Linked DNA regions of Homo sapiens: region 1 is linked to region 2. Evidence: fine-mapped expression QTL. Tissue or cell type: testis. Region 2 holds a variant in brackets; the other region holds the start of a gene. All regions are shown on one strand. Distances are from middle to middle.

What was found. PIP is the estimated chance that this variant, and not a neighbour inherited with it, causes the effect.
Region 1: SSBP2 starts here. The variant in region 2 is fine-mapped to the expression of SSBP2 in testis (GTEx, PIP 0.96).

The regions. Positions count from the first base shown.
Region 1 is chr5:81,748,052-81,756,209 of GRCh38, forward strand. SSBP2 (single stranded DNA binding protein 2) reads right to left here and starts at 3,046. Exons shown (of 17, transcript NM_001256732.3): 1 at 2,930-3,046. The coding sequence starts at 2,991. RefSeq lists silencers at 1,908-2,067, 2,288-2,337, 2,778-2,827, 2,998-3,327, 3,598-3,947 and a cis regulatory region at 6,755-6,840.
Region 2 is chr5:81,538,123-81,546,122 of GRCh38, forward strand. The region is part of intron 4 of SSBP2 (single stranded DNA binding protein 2); the gene reads right to left. Among named protein-coding and RNA genes, the nearest start is that of ACOT12, 150 kb to the left of the region's middle. The variant CATGGTGAT/C (reference allele first, on the strand shown) is at 4,508.

The DNA.
Region 1 (8,158 bases), 210 kb after region 2:
TATTTCATATAGTGACTTCCTAATGAAAGACAAAACAAAGATCTAATACAGGTAAGCACTTGTCAACTATTCACCATGAACTCATGTTAGAAAACACATTTCTTGATTATAAAACCAATGTGCTTATTTCCTAAGCATGCTATTATTTATAATAATGACTCCTTTTGCAGAATGTTTTTGTTAAAATGAGTATTTGTTACAGAAACAAATTATTTCTGTGATTTTTAAGATAAGAACAGTTCTAATTTGCTTACTAAAGGAGAATTCTTCACCTTTTATAATCTGTTACCTTAAAAATTAAGAACAAAAATCTGGTGACATCCATTTTAATGATGACTTCAAGATTCCTACCTTCAGATGTTAGTACATTGTTGCAGAATAGTGCCATTAAAGTCCCAAGTAAACATAAAGAGAAAAACCGAGAGATTAGATCAACTCTCCCACCAAGATGAAATTAAGTTTATTCTATAAGACAGAACCTACGTCGATGTTTGTCTTAGATTCAAACAACATTAACCTAGAAATTAATGCAACGACAATTAACCCAGAACAGTCATTGTCAATTCTCCAAAAGCGGCCTCTTCACCTATATTTAAGTTCATAAGGCAAACCAGTCAAGAATTCCTGCTGCCAATTGAAATGAATGGAAGAAATATATTTAAATCAAATAGCACCATCTAGCAGAACCCTGATCTGCTCACGAGAGTAGATATTACTTGGTGTTCAGTTTGGTAGATTTGACAGCAAAGTGGCAATTATTTGTTTTCCTGGTGGGAAATCACAGAATTAGAGCTAGAAAGGACCACAGTTATGCAAGTTCCAACATCCTTGTTATTATCTGAGAAACTAAAAAAAAAAATCAAGCAGTCCTCAGGATACTGAGTGGGATTCAACTAAAGTTCACCCCTTCCTGGAAGTTCACCTAAAATCTAAAATTACTTTGATTCTCAAATTCAGTCACCCCCAAAATAAGATCATGCCTCAATACATTTCAATCACTCTGACTAATGTGAAATTCAAATATTCTGTGATCATTAAAACATCCTCCTTCAGATGTTTTTATCAGGCACATTATAACAAAATGATTAATGCACACAAATGAGACTGCATTTCAAAACTTCAATTCTAGTAACTGCCGTTTCTTAACCAGGCTATAACGCTATGTCTTTTATATACTACTTGTCACAGCAACAAGATCCTGAATGCAGCTCAGAAAATATCTCTTGCAAAAAAACAAAAAAGCCTCTCTAATTTTTGTTTTGTTTTGTTTTGCTTTGCTACATCAAGGCCTGATACCTCTAAATCCTATGGGAATTGAGTGTGTTGCTGCCAACACAAAGATTAGGAAATGTTCCCATCCCTAGGGCACACAAAACTTTCAGGGGGAGACTAACTGCCTAAACCAAGGAGGGAAACTCAGTCGCCTGCGCATTCGGTTTTTATTTACGCAGCTATTTCTGTGCGCAAGGTAACCAAAGTACCTTTGAGAGATGCTCTCAGACTTTTTCTCTGGTCTGAACCCCCTCAGAAAGACAGGGTGCGTTCAACGACAAGGATAACTCTGACCCTCAGAGTTTAAGTGGTTACTGGGAATCACTGATCTGTTGCACAGTTTAAAAAAAAAAGGGGGGGGTTCTTCCTCAGTGATCACAGTCACTATTCGTTCTCATTTTTAGTAACAACCAAATCACCGTTACAAGTACACAAGAATAGCAGCAAACCGCTTTGCTTTGCAGTGTGCCGTGACAGTGGCATCCCGGGCCGGGAGGGGCTCTGTTCTCGCCAGCCGCCTCTTGGGCTCCCACCGAAGTTAACACCTGTATCTCCCCACAACTGTAACCAAGCGGCTCCTTCCCACCTGAACGCTTCTCCCCTCCCACAAACCCCTTTTCGGACCACTGGCCCTCCCCGCCACAGCTGCCCTCCTCGGGCGCCCCCGGCGGCTCCCACAACTCCCCTCCGCGCGCCCCCGACCACCGCCCCGCCGGGCCCGCCCCTCCCGCCGCTCGGGGGCTGCCAGCCTCACAAAAAGTTCGCCAGCCGCCGCCGCGGAGTTGGGTCCGCTGCGAGAGGCAGAAACGCCAGCCTCCTCCAGCGGATCCCGCTCCTCGCCAACACACTTTAGCTCCCCGGGAACTCGGTCCCTCTCCGACTCCCAAACTTCGGCGGCGTCTCCGGCGCCCACCCGCCCCCGCCCCCGCCCCAGCCCCAGCCCCAGCCCCGCGATGCGCGGGGGACTGCGGGCGCCGCGTCCGTAGCTGGCCCAGGAAAGCCCGGACGCCCAACCCGCACACGCCCTCCGCGCCCCGCGCGCGTCTCCGCGCCCCGCGGGGCCCCGCTCGGCCGCTCCACGCCCGGCTTCCGCCCGCCGCGCGCCCGGCACCGCCGCCCTCGCCTCGCCTCGCCCCGCGCTCGCGGCCCTAAGCCCCAGCGCCCAGGCCCCCGCCGCCGCGCTCCCCGCGCTGCCCGCCCCGACCCCGGCCCCGACCCCGGCCGGCCCGCCAAACACCCACATTCCCACTGCGCGCCTTCCTCCACGCAGCTGCCCCTCCCGCCACCCCCGGCGGCTCCCCAGGTCCCCGGAGCCCCGGACCCCAGCTCTAAAGTTACTTTGGAAGGTGAACCCGCGGGTTATTTCCCTCAATCACCCAAACAAGTTTCCATCCTCGCCACCAGCACCACCGCCGCCCCTCAACACACCCGGTCCCTCCCGCCGACAGCCCCCTGCGGCCGCCCGCCCAGCGCCCGCACCTCCCGGGAAAGCGCAGCTCCCCGCACCACACGCCCCCATCGCGGCACCCCTCCCCCTGCCAGCCCACCCCCGGCGCTCCCCGGGCGGAGAGTGTCTGTGTCTCCCAGAGTGTGCGAGTGCGTGCGTGAGTGTGCGCGCGTGTGAAGGCGGAGGTGGGTGAGAAGCGGAGACACTTACTTCTCCCGGGCCTGGCTGTCGGACGGGACGGCGCTGCTGTTACTCTTGCCTTTGCCGTACATGCTTGTGCCGAGAGCAGCTCCCACTGTCACGCACCTGTCAACCCATCACAGCCTCCCCGGGAACAGCCCCGTCCCCATGGCGACCCACGCAGCCACCCCCACTATTGGCCGCCCCACGCCAAAGCTCCGCCCCCTTCGCCCAGGCAACGCGCGAGACTGACAGGCCTCCCCCTCCCTCTGGCCTTCCGAAGCGCGCGGTGGCGGCTAAGCCTCAGCGGCAGTCTCCTCCCTCCTTCCCTCCCTCCCCGACTCCCTCCCTCCCGCCTTCCCTCTCCGCTCTCCTCCCTCCACCCGCTCTCCTTCCCCCTCCCCCCTCCGAACCCGGGCGCAAGGGGGGAATTAGAAACTGCTCTAGAAGGATTTTAAACAACTGGCTGTTCTCTCCGCCGCCACCCCTCCCCCCGCGCCGCCCGCGCTCAGCTCCTCACTGGAGAGAAGGCGCCGGGAGGAGGAGAAACTGCGGCCTGGAGTCTCCGGCCGGAGCCGGCGGAGCTGGAGCCGTGGCGGCCCCAGACTTCGGGGCGCCCGCCGAGTCCACGACAGAGCCACGGCCTCAGCCGCCCTGGGGCCCCCACCAGCCCCTCTCCCGCTCCTCTCCTATGCGTGACCCCGCGCCGGTACCCACGATTGATTTTTGCGGTCCTCAGCCCTACTCCCTGGGGTGTCGCCCCCGCCCTGTTCCCAGAGGGCCGGCTGGCGAGGGACACCCGCGCGGTTCCCTCGACCTTCTGGCTGAGCGACCGACAGCGACTCGCCTTCTCTCCTGGGGAAAGGCTGCACCTCCGGCCCTCGGCGCCGCTGCGGTGGCGGCGCCCGGGGCCGCGCCCTGCGCCCCAGGGGAGCACCCGGCCTGGGGTCGGCCTCCTCTGTAAGAGGTGAGCGGACCTCCCGAGGAGGCCCGGTGACTCCTGCGGCCGCAGCGGCCCCTGCCCCAACCCCTTCTTGCACGGAGCCCCGCGGCGCCCTGGACACCCCGCCAGATCTGCCGCAGAAGAGGGCCCCAGGCTTCCCCACCCGGCCTGGTTTAACAGTTTGGGTCAGTGATGCCTATTCATCCTGACCCCTGGAGTGGAAAAGGCCAGAAAAGGTCTTGAAAGACTTCCCTGTCCTTGCCCGTTAGAATAGGCCCCAGCGCGCTCCAAGGTGTACAAAGCTGTGCCAGGGCTGAAAGGCTGCCCGAGAATGTTTCTGTATCCAAATCCCTAATCCCATTTCAGTAAACGCGCAAAAGTTTCAGAAACACACACAATCTGGTTCCCAGTAGAACTCTGCATCATTTATCTTATTGAAGTCCTTGACTGTAAAATCAGACGGGTGCAAATGGGGTTAGAAAGAAGATGGGCTTCACACGGGGAAGAAGGGGACAGATGGGGTGGGACAGGGCGACATCTGGAAAGGATGAATAGACAAGAAGTAGCTATGGGAGGAGAGGGAAATCGGATTCGCGTGGAGGAAGGTACCGTTCTATTCCACACACACACAGCTTTAAGCATTTAGTAGGAGGATCATAAAATGCATATGGAGATATACAGATAGATGGAAAGGAAAGAAATGGGTGTGAGCATTGACAGAAGTGATAGGAATAAAACATCAACAGATGATTAAGGAAGGGCAGTTAGCAAAAGTGAGAGGTCGAGAATCAAAAACGCGGTTGGCAACCAGACATAAAGACGGGAAAATGAAGAGGAAGGACTTTCTATACTGGTGTTAATGACAAGGAAAAAAACATGAGGAAAGTGAGGTATAAAAAGATGAGAAGACTAGAAGATACAGGATTAAATGAAGAAGCCATAGAGTGTGATAGCAAAAGATTAAAAGTAATAGAGGACAGACATTATCGTTAAAAAAAAGATATAAGAAAAAAAGCACTTTTATTAAAAGGACAAAAATTAAGCCAATAAAGGAAATGAGGGGGGAAAAGTGGGGGAAAAAAATACACTGGCTTAAGTAGATTAATTTCCAAGAGATGTAATTTGCCATTTCTGACTTAAGAATTCTTCTGTCAGTTTCTAATGACCTACAGTTATTGGGTGGTTAGGATATGGCATTCATATTCTTCTTTTTGTTTCTAATGACCTGCAATGATTGGGTGATTGAAGCGAAGCTGAGCCAGTCAGCCTCTCTTAATGAACTTTTGCTCAAAATGCTCAAATGTGTATAAGGTTGCCACAGTTTACAGACTCAACTTCAAGGTTAGCATTATGTAATTTTTTTGTTCAATTATCTACTTCCATTGGCCTTAACCCAGAAAATTTTTAGTATATCAAGGCTCCATCTCTTATAGAATACTCCCTATAAAGGTGCTGCTCAGAGAATGCTGTCAGTTCTCAGAGAGCTCTGGCAGCTTCTCAGACACCCTCCTGCCTGCCCCTGGAAAAACGAACCAAGGGTGGGCTTTGTCCTACTATCCAAAAACAAAGTAGGTATTATCCTTGCACTGGTGTTGGGACTCTCTTAACTATGGTTCTCAATCATGGCACGTTAGAATTGCCTTTATTTTCATTGTTGTTGGGTTTTGTTTGTTTGTTTATATACTAACTGGATCAGAAACCTTGGGGATGGACCCAGGTACCTGCATTTTTTTCATAAGCTCCACGTGGTTCTTGTGTATAACCAGGGCTGCCTGCCTTTGCTCTTCAGTATCCATTTAAAGACAGCCAATGGGTACCATAAGAGATTAGTACAAGACTTTTAGGTTGGGCTGTCCATTAACAAATGACCCTACTCAAAGCATTAAGATGTCTTTACAGTGTACTTTACTTTCTGCCACCAAGCCAACAAACTTGTTAATAGGACAAAAATGTATGCCCATATGTGTTCTCATAGTACAAGATCATGAATAGCCATGGTTTAATTTGCTATTTCCTATAGAGAAAGGAAAATGAAGAAAGAGAACAGGAGAAACTGTTTGCTGTCTACTGCTATAATTTATTCATTTGATTGGTTTTTACCCAGATTTGTTACATTTGGAAGTCCTATGGGTAATGGCATATTTTCTGATGTTTAAAAAATAAATAAATTATAGATCTGCACAGTGGGGTATGGAATTTAGAACAATTTGGTCTTAGTCTTTGGAAAGAATAAAATGCTAAAAGGTCTTAGTTCAGAACTTGCGAAGTTAATGTCAGAGTTACCTTTATAAGAATGTTCTCATCTGACAAATATACAAAGTGAAAACATGACTTTTATATGTATATGTATCCTGTATATAGTAACCTTAAAGCTTAAGTAATCAAATCAATTATCATTAAAACAGCTCAGCAGCTACCTGAACCATCTCTGTTTTATTTTCCTCTAAATGTTTTCACATGTAAATAAAATGCTTCTTTGCCCTTGTTCAAATTATGTTGAGTACAAAGAGTGTTCTTTGCATCAGCAACTGTATCTCCTGGGACCAATATTGTAATTAATGAGATTTGAAACACATATTCAGAGCCAAATTTGAGATCCCAGACACAAAAATGAAGATCCATTGTTTTGTTTTCATTTTTTAAAAAGGGAAAAGATTGGAGATTTAAAGCTTCCTAGTGTAGAGAATCACAATGTATTTTTAGAGTTTTTTTTTTAACCCACATATGAGATTGATGAATTTGGGGAGCCTGGATTTGGCATAGGGGAACCCTGACCAGCAATGTCACCAGAATGGAACATTTGGAATTGAGGTTGATTTTTTAAAAAAACTTTACTCTTTCAGATATAGAACATCACAATAACTCAATCATTAGGTCTCCCTCATCTGTACCCCCATTTCGTTTGGACACGTGTGCACAATTTTCTCTTTCTGGAACCTACATCTAATTCTTGGAAGTCTTTATCACTTTAAAACAGGCAGTTCATTATGCCACCCTGCTCAAGCTCTAGATTGACTATACATTTCTTTGATCCTAACTTTTTTTTCTGTAGAACATTAAGGTTAATAATGTCTACATTCTTACAGTGCATGAGACCTCAGAAAAGATTTACCTGTTATATACAACAAAGAGACCACCTCTTTATGTTTAAATGGAAGCTAATCATGAATTTAATTATGTGCATCATACAGAACATTTAGCTTATTAACTTAAAACCACTTAGAAATAAAAATATTTAGAAAAATAAACTAAACATTAAAATAAATTTTCTTGTTTTAGAGTAATATTCCCCAAAAATAAAACTGTTCTATTATTTATTTGTTTCATAAAACTAATCAGTTTATACAAATAACTCAGTTGCATTCATACCACTTTTCATTTCAAATCGTTTAACAGATATTCATTCATTATTACTCAATACATCCCAGTTAATTAGATTTCCCTAACCAGCTTTTTAAACTGGGTGAACTGAGTTCTAGATATATTCGTTAGCATTAGCTGATCCAAAAAGAAAACAGAACTAGTTCCAGAAGAAGAACTCCATGTTCCTGGCTGGCAGTCCTTTTCCCAGACCACGAAGCCACACCTCTTTCTCTCAGAAGTGACTATTCCACCAAGGAATGTGAGCAAGCTCTGAGATGTTTGTCATTCAGATTACCTTGTGAAACTTCACTCCCAGGCAGAAGAGACCAGCATGCTCAGATTCACAAAATGCTCAAATGCCATGTACCAAAGTAATGAAATGAATAGTCATTGCAACTATGCTACTGTGCAATTTAGTCACTTACACCAGAATAATAAATGAAATTGGGCCTCAAATTAACATTTTTTGACACACTATTATTGGTTTAACATCAGCTAATCTGAGGCAATGACTGTTTCCATAACCTATTGCCCTGGATTTTTTAAATCCCAATTTACATATTCATAAACACTTACCAATATGTTAGGAGACATGGTGTGCAGATCTGCCAGTTCCAAAGAGTTCCAGCCCTAGAGGGTCTAGTCTTTTTTAGCACTACCAAGAATGTAAAGTTTAGTGACTTGGAATAAAATAAAATTATCCTTATACAAAGAATTATATATAAGCTGAAGATGAAAAATGAAAAACCAGGGCTACCATGTATGGCAATTTCATATACTGTATGTAGCATTTTGCAAAACAAATTCCAAGTGTTGTCATGTTCACTGGCTGGATTTTTGTCATTAAATGTTGAGAGTTATGTAATAGGAAGTGTGCCAAAGAGTGTTCTTTATTCAAAAGTATTACTATTTTTTTTAGTGCATTCCTAAATCTTCACAATGGTTTTTCACCT
Region 2 (8,000 bases):
CAAGTTGTGAATGCAAAGGAAAAGTTCTTGAAGGAAATTAAAAGTGCTACTCCAGTGAAACACAGATGATAAGAAAGCAAAACAGCCTTACTGTTTATACAGAGAAAGATTTAGTGATGTGGATAGAAGATCAAACCAGCCACAACATTTCCTTAAGCCAAAGCCGAATACAGAGCAAGGCCCTAAGTCTCTTCAATTGAGTGGTAAGAGAGCAGCAGACAAAAAGTCTGATGTTGGCAGAAACTGGTTCATGAAGTTTAAGGAAGGAAGCTGTCTTTAGAACAAAACGGTGCACAGTGAAGCAGTAAGTGCTGATGTAGAAGCTGCACCAAGTTATCCAGAAGATCTAGCTAAGATCACTGATTATGGTGGTTATACCAAACAACAGATTTTCAGTGTAGATGAAACAGCCTTCTATTGAAAGATGCCATGTAGAACTTTCATAGCTAAAGAGCAGAAGTCAATGCATGCTTTCAAATATTCAAAGGCTGATTCTCTTGTTAGGCTGGTTCTCTTGTTAGCAGCTAATGCAGTTGGGGGCTTTAAGCTGAAGCCAATGCTCATTTACCATTCTGAAAATCCTATGGCCCTTCAGAATTACACTAAATCTACTCTGCCTGTGTTCTATAAATGGAACAACAAAGCCTGGGTGACAGCACATCTGTTCACAGAATGGTTTACCGAATATTTGAAGCCCACTGTTGAGACCTGCTACACGGAAGTCCTCTGCTGTTCATTGACAATGCATCTAGTCACCCAAGAGCTCTGATGAAGATATACAAGGAGACTGATGTTGTTTTCCTGACTGCAAACACAATATCTATTCTGCAGCCCATGGATCATGGCGTAACTTTGACTTTCAAGACTTATTATTTAAGAAATATATTTCATAAGGCTTTAACTGCCACAAATAGTGAATCCTTCGATGGGTCTGGAAAAAGTAAATAGAAAACCTTCTGGAAAGAATTCATTATTCTAGATGCTATTAAGAACATTTGTGATTCACGGGAGGAGATTAAAATAGTAACATAAACTAGAGTTTGGAAGTAGTTGATTCCAACCCTTGTGGATGACTTTAAGGGGTTCAAGACTTGAGTGGAAGAAGTCACTGCAAATGTAGTGGAAATAGAGGGAGAACAAGAATTACAAGTGGAGCCTGAAGATGTGACTGAATTGCTGCCAATCTCACGATATCAAACTTGACAGATGAGTTGCTTCTTATGGATGAGCAAAGAGAGTGGTTTCTTGAGATAGAATCTACTGGTGAAGATGCTATGAACACTGCTGAAACGATTACAAAAGATTTAGAATATTACATAAACTGAGTTGATAAAGCAGCGGCAAGGTTTAAGACTAAAACTGACTCCAATTTTGAAGTTCTACTGTGGGTCAAATGCCATCAAACAGTATTGTATGCTATTGAGAAATCATTTGTGAAAGGAAAAGTCATTCAATGTGGCAAACTTCATTGTTGTCTTATTTTAAGAAACTGCCACAGCCACCCCAGCATTCAGCAACCACCACTCTGATCAGTCAGCTGCCATCAATATCAAGGCAAGACCTTCCAACAGCAAAAAGATTTTGACTCACTGAAGGCTCAGAGAATTGTTGCCATTTCTTAGCAATAATTTTTTTATTATACTTTAAGTTCTGGATTACATGTGCAGAACGTGCAGGTTTGTTACATAGGTATACACGTGCCATGGAAGTTTGCTGCACCCGTCAACCCGTCATCTACATTAGGTATTTCTCCTAATGCTATCCCTCCCTTAGCCCCCCACCCCGACAGGCCCCGGTGTGTGATGTTCCCCTCCCTGTGTCCATGTGTTCTCATTGTTCAACTCTCACTTATGAGTGAGAACATGCAGTGTTTGGTTTTCTTTTCCTGTGTTAGTTTGCTGAGAATGATGGTTTCCAGCTTCGTCCATGTCCCTACAAAGGACATGAACTCATCCTTTTTTATGGCTGCATAGTATTCCATGGTGTATATGTGCCACATTTTCTTTATCCAGTCTATCATTGATGGGCATTTGGGTTGGTTCCAAGTCTTTGCTATTGTGAATGGTGCCGCAATAAACATATGTGTGCATGCATCTTTATAGCAGCATGATTTACAATCCTTTGGGTATATAGCCAGTAATGGGATCGCTGGGACAAATGGTATTTCTGGTTGTAGATCCTTGAGGAATCGCCACACTGTCTTCCGCAATGGTTGAACTGATTTATACTCCTACCAACAGTGTAAAAGCGTTCTTATTTCTCCACATCCTCTCCAGCATCTGTTGTTTCCTGACTTTTTAGCAATCGCCATTCTAACTGGCATGAGATGGTATCTCACTGTGGTTTTGATTTGCATTTCTCTGATGGCCAGTGATGATAAGCTTTTTTTCATATGTTTGTTGGCTGCATAAATGTCTTCTTTCGAGAAATGTCTATTCATATCCTCTGCCCACTTTTTCATGGGGTTGTTTTTTTCTCATAAATTTGATTAAGTTCTTTGTAGATTCTGGAACTAAGGTATGTACATTGTTTCTTTAGGTATAATGCTATTGCATGTTTAATAGAATACAGTATAATGTACATATAACTTTTATATGCCCTATAAAAGAAACCAAAACATGTGTGTGACTCAGTTTATGGCAATATTCACTTTATTGTGGTGCTCTGAAACCAAACTGCAGTATCTCCGATTTGCACCTGTAAATCACTCAAAAAGCATGACATGAAATGTAACTCCATTCAATATTAAGGGTTAAATATTAGAATTCCTGGAGGTCCTAGCCAGATCAATTGGGCAACAGAAAGTTAGAAAAAAAAAAAAGGTATCCAAATAAGAAAAGAAGTCAAACTATCTCTCTATGCAAACAATGTGTGATTCTATAGCTAGAAAACCTTAAAGACCCTGCCAAAAGTTTCCTGGAGCTGATAAACTACATCAGCACAGTTTCAGGATGTCAATTCAATGGAAAAAAAAATCAGCAGCATTTCTATATACTAATCATGTTCAAGCTGAGAGCCAAACCAAGAATGCAATCCCATTTACTATAGCCACAGGAAAAAAATAAAATAGCCAGGAATACATCTAACCAAGTAGTTGAAAGATCTCTACAAGGAGAACTACAAAATACTGATAACAGAAGTCATAGAAGACACAAACAAATGTAAAAACATCTCATGCTCACAGATTGGAAGAATCAATATTATTAAAATGGCGATACTGCCTAAGGCACTCTATAGATTCAATGCTATTCATACCAAACTACCAATGTCATTTTTCACAGAACTAGAACAAACGATTCTAAAATTCATATAGCACCAAAAAAGAGCCAAAATAGCCAAAGCAATCCTAAGTGAAAAAAAACAAAGCCAGAGACATCATATTACCTGACTTCAAACTATACTATAAGGCTACAATAAGCCAAAACAGCATGGTACTGGTCCAAAAAGAGACATATAGACTAATGGAACAGAATAGAGAACCCAGAAAAAAAGCTGCAGACCTACAGCCATCTGATCTTTGACAAAGTAGACAAAAATACTAAATGGGAAAAGGACCCCTATTCAATAAATGGTGCTGGGATAGTTGGCTAGCCATATGTGGAAGAATGAAACTGGGCCCCTACCTTTCACCATATACAAAAAATAACTCAAAATAAAGTATAGGTTTCAATGTAAAACCTCAAACTATAAGAATCCTAGAAAAAAAAGTAAGAAACACCATTCTGGACTTCGTCCATGGCAAAGAATTACGACTAAGTCCTCAAAAGCAATTGCAACAAAAACAAAAATTGACAAGTGGAACCTAATTCAACTAAAGAGGGTCTGCAAAGCAAAGAAACTATCAACAGAGTAAACAACCAACCTACAGAATGGGAGAAAGTATTCACAAACTCTGCATTCAACAAAGGTCTAATATCCAGAATCCGTAAGGACCTTAAATGAACAAGCAAAAAACATATAGCCTCATTAAAATATGGGCAAAGACATGAACAGACACTTCTCAAAAGAAGACATACAAGCGGCCAACAAACACATGAAAAAATGCTCCGCATCACTAATAATCAGAGAAATGCAAATCAAGACCACAATGAGATACCATCTCACCCAGTGAGAATGGCAATTATTAAAAAAGTCAAAAAAACAAAAACATGTTGGTAAGGCTGTGAAGAAAAGTGTTATACACTGTTAGTGGGAATGTAATTTAGTTCAGCCACCGTGGAAAGCAGTTTGGAGATTTCTCAAAGAACTCAAAACTATCATTCAACCCAGCAATCCCATTACTTGGCATAAAACCAAAAGTCAATAAATCATTCTATCAAAAAGACACATACACTCACATGTTCATAGCACCACTACTCACAATAGCAAAGACATGGTATCAACCTAGATGTCAATCAACAGTGGACTGGATAAAGAAAATAGATGCATAGTATTCCATGGTGTATACACATGGTATATATTCCATATACACCATGGAATACTATGCATCCACAAAAAAGAACAAAGT[CATGGTGAT/C]ATGGTTTGGTGCTGTGTCCTCACCCAAATCTCATCTGGAATTGTAATCCTCATAATCCCCATGTGTCGAGGGAAGGACCAGGTGGGAGGTGATTGGATCATGGGGTGGCTTCCCCTATGCTGTTCTTATGATAGTGACTTCTCATGAAATCTGATGGTTTTTATAAGTATTTGACAGTTTCTCTCTCTCTCTCTCTCTCTCTCTCTCTCTCTCTCCTTTCTTTCTTCTTTTTTTGAGACAGAGTCTGGCTCTGTCGGCCAGGCTGGAGTGCACTGGCACAATCTCGACTCACTGCAACCTCTGCCTCCCGGGCTGAAGCAATTCTCCTGCTTCAGCCTCCCGAGTAGCTGGGATTACAGGCATGTGCCACCATGCCCATTTAATTTTTGTATTTTTAGTAGAGACGGGGTTTCACCATGGTGGCCAGGGTGGTCTCGAACTCCTGACCTCAGGTAATCCGCCTGCTTCGGCCTCCCAAAGTGCTGGGATTACAGGCGTGAGCCACCCTGCCCGGCCAACATGCTTATACTCTCTCCTACAGCCTTGTGAAGAAGGTGCCTACTTCCCCTTCCACCACGATTGTAAGTTTCCTGAGTCCTCCCCAGCCATGCGGAACTGTAAGTCAATTAAAACTCCTTTGTTTATAAATTACCCAGTCTTAGGTAGTATCTCTGTAGCAGTCTAAGAACAGACTAATACACATGTCCTTTGCAGCAACATGGATGCAGCTGGAGGCCATTATTTTAAGCAAATTAATTCAGGAACAGAAAACCAAATATCACATGTTCTCACTCAGAATTGGGGGCTAAACAATGGGTACTCATGATCATAACGATGCCAGCAATAGACACTGAAGACTACTAGAGGGGAGAGGAAGAGAGGGAACAAGGGTTGAAAAACTCACTATTGGGTACTATGCTCAGTACCTGGGTGATAAGATCATTCATACCCTAAACCTCAGCATCATGCAATACATCCAGGTAACAAACCTACATATATGTATCCTCTGAATCTAAAATAAAAGTTGAAAAAAAAGAATTCCTATCACAGTGACTATGGATACTCATGTATAGCTTCAACTATACATGCTATATCCTACAAATAGTAGGCATTCAATAATTATTTGCTAAATGAAAGAATGAAGAAACAAATAAATGTCATTTAAAACAAGACATCCAAATTACTAATTTTTTTCTACCCTTTAAATCAAATATAACTACTCTGCTAAGTATATCTAGAGTTTTCCAAAACAATGTAATATAAATAAAATGGATATGTTTGCTGTGCAATACTGAAATAAACAATATATAATTATAAACAATAATCTACTTATATGCTCAAACACTGACACTATCTTCATGATGCAATTCTTTCTCTTCACAAAAACACCAAACTTCCACCTTTCTTTCTTCCTTCCTTTTTTTCCTTTGAGACGGAGTCTCGCTCTGTGGCCCAGGCTGGAGTGCAGTGGCGGGATCTCGGCTCACTGCAAGCTCCGCCTCCCGGGTTCACGACATTCTCCTGCCTCAGCCTCCTGAGTAGCTGGGACTACAGGCGATGCCACCACGCCCGGCTAATTTTTGTATTTTTAGTAGAGACGGGGTTTCACCATCTTGGCCAGGCTGGTCTTCAACTCCTGACCTCGTGATCCGCCCCCCTCAGCCACCCAAGGTGCTTGGATTACAGACCTAAGCCACTGCGCCTGGCCCACCTTTATTTCTTATTGTCAAGTGAAGCCTCTTTGACTCTGGAAGGCAATCAGGCATCTTTTTATTGACCAGCTGTATAACTGGGCACCCTGTAATGTATTTCAGGACAAGAAATGAGCAGGTGTGTCTCTTGAACTTCGCCTAAACATGTATTAAGTCTAACTTACATTCTTTGGAGAAATAGTACAACTCATTTTGATGATTCCACAGAAAGACATAAAAGGAAGGAATGTTTAAAAGGAATCATTGTGGTTTTGTTTGTTTTTGCAGGGGGAGAACAAAACTAAGAGTAAATGTGCTGATATCCTAATTGTTCAAAGGGGAAAAAAACAGAAAAATAAAAACAATAATGTCACTGATTTAGTGAACAAAGAAAGGAATATGGTAGAGACTGGATGCTCACTAAACCTGTTTTTGCTTCTCAGACACACAGCCAAACTACATTTCCCAGCCCTCCTTTATGTGAGCAGAGGTCATGTGACTGAGTTATGGCAAATATGTACAAAGTGGGTGGAAGTGATAACAAGGTGCTTCCAAGTTTGGCCCATGAAACCTCACACACAATTCCCCATATATTATGCTCTGCTGTTCTCCACATATGGACTGAATATAGAGGAGGATAAGGCCCAACATATGGTAGGACTATGTGAAGGAAGGAGTATGAGACTCTCACTGACTGTACAAAGTAGAGCCACCCACCTCTTCTATCCATCATCACTCCTCTACACTTTAGGGTGGCCAGCTTTAACAATTAATAAGTATACAGAGAGCACAGCTGAATTTGAATTTCAGATAAAACACATATTTTTTTAGTATAAGTATGCCTTATACAGTATTAAAGACATAACTATATATGTATGCAATATTTAGGATATACTTAAAAATTGTTTATTGCTTATTTGAAATTCAAATGTAACTGGGCATCTTGAATTTTATCTGGCAATCCTATACATAGTAGACTGTGACATAAGGTAAGAAATAAACTTTTATTGTATTAAGGCACTGAAATTTGGGATTTTTTTACAACCACTTTCCTACCTTGACTAATAAAAAACATACAAATACTATTTTAAAGAACAGTAATAGAAATAATTAGTAGTAGTAATACTAACAATAGCAATAAAAATAATTAGTTGTGTGAATAAAGTCTGAAACTATCACCACATAGTTGATTTGTGGTCAAGCTGTTAACAAACCAAGTTCTTCTGCCTCTCAGGCACAGTATACACAACAACTGAGATTCATGGAATTCATATATACTTGTTGATTACATATTAGGTGTGATATACTCTGGGATATATATACAATGAACAAGACACATTTTGTGCTTTCAGGGGCGTAGCAGGTCAGCTTAGACAAGTACTAACCCTTGTATAATACAAAAAACAATATATGGCAAATTAAAAGGGAAAACTGTGTTAATAAACAGTCTTTAATTCTGATACCACAAAAGTTGTTACCAAAGTGGCATGAAGAGAAAAACTGATTTATAAAAAGGCAGAGAGAGTATTTTAGTTTTAATTTCTTTGTCATAGGCCTTTGCTCCCAGAATCCAATGTCCACTCCATTCTTGGTGAGCTAGACAGATGAAATTTCCTTCCCTTCCTTTTCCCTAAAATAGTTTTAAAGGGAATGTTTAAGCACAAGCTGGTTGATCAGATGAAATTCCCTTTCCTTCTTTTTTCCTTCAATAGTTTTAAAGAGAATGTTTAAGTACAAGCCTGGCTGATCAAGAACAATGGCTATCATTTATTAATCACCTACTGAGTGTTAGG